2 separate regions of the Homo sapiens genome follow, and region 2 is linked to region 1. Evidence: fine-mapped expression QTL. A gene starts in region 1. The other region holds a variant in brackets. All regions are shown on one strand. Distances are from middle to middle.

Region 1 (2,910 bases):
TTGATAAAGGGAAAGAGGCCACCATTATAAAACAACTTTTACACACTTTTACTTGTGATTTAGTGCATGGTGACCTGGAACATAAAGAAGATTTATGAAAGGAAAGACAGAATCATAGTAGGTAATTGAGTTATTTTTTAATTTTTATTCTGTCTTTATAAGATTTTTGAGAAGGTAATCAATTAACATAAAGATCTGAGCAGTTATAAAGATTTACAAAGAAGATTATACAGTGATGGAAACTGAAGCATATTCTTGGCAACAATCTCAATCTATTTCACGTTTCCCGGCTTTTACATATATAAATTTGGTATACATAATATGTAAATATACTTCTATTTTGCATGAAAACTAAAAATACTAAAAAAGTAGCATGAGTATATGAAAAAGTTAAACATTAAAAATATTAGTTGGAAACTGGCTTATTTTACTAACAATTATATTCAGAATTCTGTTGCTAGACTGCTGTTTCTGGGAACATTGGAGGTGTACTTTCTATACTTGCTAAAATACAAGCTTTTCAAGTATTTTCCATAGTATTAAGTGAGACTTTAAATACTCTTGCTTTTTTAGATCTAATTTCTGCTTTAATTTATCCTTCTCTTCATTTTTCCTGTTTGTCCTCATCTTACCTGTTCTTCCCTGGTTTTACTATCTCCCAGTATTCAGAAATCAGAGCAAATAATTAGTCTGCTTTTCTGCAGAATAAACTATTGGGTATGCCATCATGCTTTTGATCTACCACATAAACAAATTATTTTAGCAAGACATCACTTTTATATGCTGTATAATGTATGTATTGCTTATGTTTTAAGCAGATTTCAGCTCTTTTCCTTCCATCAATTTGGAATTGGGGGCCCAAAAGATGTGAAGGCGATAATGCTTCCAAGATAACTGGGCTGCATCCTTATTTGTAAAATAAGAAATACTTTATTTCCCAAATTTTAAAGGAGTGTTCCTTCTCCGACCTGTTGTGATGGATTTATTCTATAGCTATGGAAATATACCCTGCTTCACTCTTGTACATACTTCTTTACTCTCCTCCCGCCAAGTTCATTGAAAGAGAACCCATGTGCCGGTCCAGAGCATCGCTGCATCCGTAAGCAGCTAGACCTCAGCTTCCTCTGTCACCATGGTGCCGGCTCGGCTGGGCCCGGCGGTCGCCATGGTAACTGGGGCGGGTCGCAGGGTCCTGGCAGGCTGGGCGCATGCGCGCGGGGACTACAAGCCGCGCCGCGCTGCCGCTGGCCCCTCAGCAACCCTCGACATGGCGCTGAGGCGGCCACCGCGACTCCGGCTCTGCGCTCGGCTGCCTGACTTCTTCCTGCTGCTGCTTTTCAGGGGTGAGTTTGCGCGTTTCCGCTGTTGGGAGACTAGGGTCTGGGGGCGACGGAAGCAGAGCGGGCCGAAGCTGCTGGAGCCGGTCCGGGCGAGGATAGCGGTCCTGGCTCCGAGGGCTCCCGGGGTCCCGGGCCGGAGGGGCGGCGCGCGCCCGCGTCCCCGCAGCCAGGGCTGGGACTCGGGCCTGGCTAGGGCGGGGGCCCTGGGACGCCCGGCAGTTGGACCGGGGCGGGGAGCTAATTTGGGATGGGGGGCCCGTCCCAGGCAGTGAGTCGGTCCCGGACAGCCGTCGGACCCCGGGGGCGGGCTCTTCTCGGGCGGGGTCCTGTGCTGGGCGGTGGGCTCATCCCCCGGGTGGGCTCCTCCCAGGCGGGGTCCTGTGCTGGGCGGTGGGCTCATCCCCCGGGTGGGCTCCTCCCAGGCGGGGTCCTGTGCTGGGCGGTGGGCTCGTCCCCGGGGTGGACCCCTCCCGGGCGGTGGGCACGGCCCTCTGGAGGGAGCGCGGCAGCTGCGGCGTGGGCGCTGGAACTTGCTGGAAGACCCTGCGCAGCAGTGCTGTGCTCTCCAGAAGGGACGGTGAGCGGGGGACGTAGCTGAGGACCGGCGAGGCAGAGCTCCGAGGCCTGGCGGGCTGCTTGGTCACAGCCCTCTGGGGATCTGCAGTTCATTTGACTCGACACAAAGGAACTGCTTTTCTTTTACAGAAATAAAATGGATATCAATCCAGTACCTTTTTTGTCTCTGGCCTGGCCGAGGAGACCACGCAGACTCTTATCCGGAAATAGCATTCGGGGCATTTGATCAAGACACACTAATAAACTTGATAGTTTTGTGCATTTTCTTTCCCTCTGTTTGGAATTCTCATTAGATCCACATTTTCCTGGACAGTTGTACAGAGGACTAAAATAGCTTTCCTTTAGTGAGCTTGTACTGTCTACTAGGCACTTTGGAGCCATTATCTCGTTTACTCCTTTCAGCAGCTCTGTGAGATAGGTTTCATTAATCCATTTTCAGAGTCAAGTCTAGTCTGCTTTCCAAGGCTGCATTCTAAGTAGTGAAGCCTCAACTTCATATTTACCTAAAGCAGGACACCACACTCTTCCCCTGGCAGCCATCCGCAGGTAACCAGACCAGGACCTTTTTCGGTTCTTAGATTATTTTATTGTTTGAATTGCCACTGTCATCCCATGATGTTTTCCAGAATATACAAATTAAAACACGGAGGGACTGTTTAGGAGTGAAGGTGGACAGATTTTGGAAAACAAAGCATTCCTGTGTTTGGTGCTTTATGCTAATGGGATGCTCGTGATGGGCTGTGACAAAAGATGAGTTTTAGCGTATAGATTATGTACGCTAAGGCAAAGTCTGTATACTTTGCCTGAAAGTGATTCCCAAAACCAAATGCTGTTGGGAGATAAGTGATCAAAGGCTAGCCAGGGGACAAGGGTGTCAGGAATGTCCAGCACCCGCTGTGTTGGTCACACTGACACTGTCCTATTCACAGCCTGGAACAACTCTCTATTGTTGAAAAGATCTGTTCACGTGAAAGTTTGCAGTTTTTGTTGCAGA
Region 2 (2,856 bases), 79 kb after region 1:
ATGTAAGGTGGTGTCAGGTCTCCAGAAATTTATCCAGTTATAACCCTCTTGTAGAAAACTGACAGTTTTAGCCCGAGTAATTTTACCTGCAGACAAAGCTTAGCCCCTAGAGTAATGTTATCTCAGGGCTCTGGTTCCCCTAATGGAGGGGCGTTGAGAGGAGGGTGGGGGCAGAGAGGATGTGTCCAAATCACTTGGGGAGCTTTTTTTTTTCTTAAAAAACAAAAAACAAAAAACACCACAGGGTCTTGCTTTGTTGCCCAGGCTGGAGTGCAGTGAGTGCAGTCACAGGTCACTGCATCCTCAAACCCAGCCTTCAAGCCATTCTCCCACCTCAGTCTCCTGAGTAGCTGGAACAACAGGCACACACCACCATGCTCAGCTAATTTTATTTTTTGTAGATACGGGGTCTCACTGTGTTGCCCAGGCTGGTCTCAAACTCCTGGCCTCAAGCAATCCTCCTGCCTCGGCCTCCCCCAGGTGCTGGGATTAACAGGCATGAGCCACTGTGCCCAGCCAGGAGCATTTTTTGAATCCTTCCCTCCTCCCTATTTGGAGCTCTCCTCAGAGCAGCATTTTCCAAAACTGCCTGGTGATACCCATTTGGGACCACTGTTTCACATACAGATTCGAGCCCACCTCAGACATATGCTAGAAATGTCTGTGTGTGAGACAAGCGTTCCGAAGGATTCTTCTCATGTGTCACGTTTGAGAAACTCTGCTCTAGGGTTGTTTTCTCCTGCAGTTTTGCCCCAGACCTACTTTAGCCTATTGACTTTTTAGTGATGAAACTTGGGAATTGACATTTTAACATCAAAATTGCATGCCAGGCGTGGTGGCTCACACTATAATCCTAGCACTCTGGGAGGCTGAGGCGGGTGGATCACCTGAGGTCAGGAGTTCAAGACCAGCCTGGCCAACATGCCAAAACTCTGTGTCTACTAAAAATACAAAAATTAGCCTGGTGTGGTGGCAGGCGCCTGTAGTCCCAGTAACTTGGGAGGCTGAGGCAGAAGGATCCCTTGAACCCGGGAGGCGGAGCTTGCAGTGAGCCGAGATTGCACCACAGAACTCCAGCCTGGGTGACGGTGACGGAGCAAGACTCTGTCTCAAAAAAAAAAAAAAAAAAACGATTGCAAGTTTACTTTTTGTTTTTGAGATGGAGTCTCGCTCTGTC[A/G]CCCAGGCTGGAGTGCAGTGGCACAATCTCGGCTCACTGCAAGCTCCGCCTCCCGGGTTCACACCTTTCTCCTGCCTCAGCCTCCTGAGTAGCTGGGACTACAGGCACCTGCCAACACGCTCAGCCAATTTTTTGTGTTTCTAGTAGAGACGGGGTTTCACCACCTTAGCCAGGATGGTCTCGAATCTCTGACCTCGTGATCTGCCCACCTCGGCCTCCCAAAGTGCTGGGATTACAGGCGTGAGCCACCGCGCCCGGCCTGCAAGTTGATTTTTAAGTGTACATTCATCTTTGAGAACCAATACACTAGGATAAAGGAGATTTTTTTAAAACTTCCAAGTTACTTGGCTCTTGTTGATAAATTCCCTGCATAGTTTTCCATGTGTCGCTTGCTTGAAGGAACGGCTGCCAGAGCCCCATATGAAAGTGACCCAGTGCCTTTGCCCAGTGTATAGACATGAGAAAAGGGTTCCAGGGGGTTTCCTCTCAGAGGGCTTATAGATCGGAGGTCAGGCAGCCGGCAGAGACAAAGCTCTAGTTCTTACCTAGGATTCTTTACTTGTTTGTTTTTTGAGACAGATTCTTTAAGGCTTGAAGCTACCTTTCTTCCCCGCAGCAATCTGCAACAAAGGGAGGCCCTGGAAATTAGGGATTCTTTTCTTCTTGGGATCCTGGCTCCTAATCTTGTCCTCATAACCATTTCCTCCATAAGTAATCTCAGGCATTCAGCCAGAGGATTTTTAAGCCTACAGTGCCAAGCCCACTTTAATACACTTTTCAGTGCGACTGCATTTCAACTGTAGAAGTCTCAGTACTTTTCACGTGTGAAGTTAGGAGTTATGGTGTCCTATATGTTCTAGGCTAGAAGGATTGTAAGTGTTCTCTCTTCTAGCTGGGGTAGGCCTGAGGGGGCAGGGGGCAAGTGGGTTTGGGGTGAAGGAAGGAGGCACAGCAGGGCCAGGGCCTTTTTAAATAACAGATAGTGTGTATCATGGCTTCCACCAAACCTCCTTTTCTTCAGATGACCTGAACATTGGCGGAATTATTGGGGGGGTTCTGGTTGTCCTTGCTGTACTGGCCCTGATCACGTTGGGCATCTGCTGTGCATACAGACGTGGCTACTTCATCAACAATAAACAGGATGGAGAAAGGTGAGCCTGCCTTATGTGAAAAAAGGGAAGTTCAAGCTGGCAATAATATAACAACCCTGTTGCTAAACTGCTCTCTTCTCCTCATAGTTACAAGAACCCAGGGAAACCAGATGGAGTTAACTACATCCGCACTGACGAGGAGGTAATCATTTAGTAAACCTGGAAACCTAGGTGTACCCAGCAGGGAAAACAACATTCCCCCTTGGAAACCACACGGGTCTCCTGGGAAGATTTCTGAGTGATTGTGCAGCTCCTGAGCTCCTCAGCCCCTTCACAGTAACACACACACACACACACACACACACACACACACACACACTAATGGGATTTGTGCTTTGCAAGCGCTAGTGATGGTACTTTTTAAGAATGATTATTCCATCTGTATTTAGCCCATGTTAGACTTACTCCGTGTTTTTCCCTGCTTGCCACCAGGCCCCTTGATGGCTCTAACTGTGTGTTGGCTTTGCAGGGCGACTTCAGACACAAGTCATCGTTTGTGATCTGAGACCCGCGGTGTGGCTGAGAGCG

Direction of the effects. Positions count from the first base shown, and alleles are read on the strand shown. Sizes are in standard deviations (SD) of each study's normalised expression.
For the expression in skeletal muscle of the gene that starts at base 1,256 in region 1, allele G in region 2 goes with a lower level than allele A (small effect, 0.21 SD a copy in GTEx).

Evidence for each region.
Region 2: its variant is fine-mapped to the expression of JAM3 in skeletal muscle (GTEx, PIP 0.99).

The regions. Positions count from the first base shown.
Region 1 is chr11:134,067,817-134,070,726 of GRCh38, forward strand. JAM3 (junctional adhesion molecule 3) reads left to right here and starts at 1,256. Exons shown (of 9, transcript NM_032801.5): 1 at 1,256-1,343. The coding sequence starts at 1,268. RefSeq lists a silencer at 1,061-1,250.
Region 2 is chr11:134,146,349-134,149,204 of GRCh38, forward strand. It overlaps JAM3 (junctional adhesion molecule 3), which reads left to right. Exons shown (of 9, transcript NM_032801.5): 7 at 2,199-2,328; 8 at 2,416-2,470; 9 at 2,798-2,856. The coding sequence ends at 2,833. Among named protein-coding and RNA genes, the nearest start is that of SNORD153, 3.6 kb to the right of the region's middle. The variant A/G (reference allele first, on the strand shown) is at 1,178.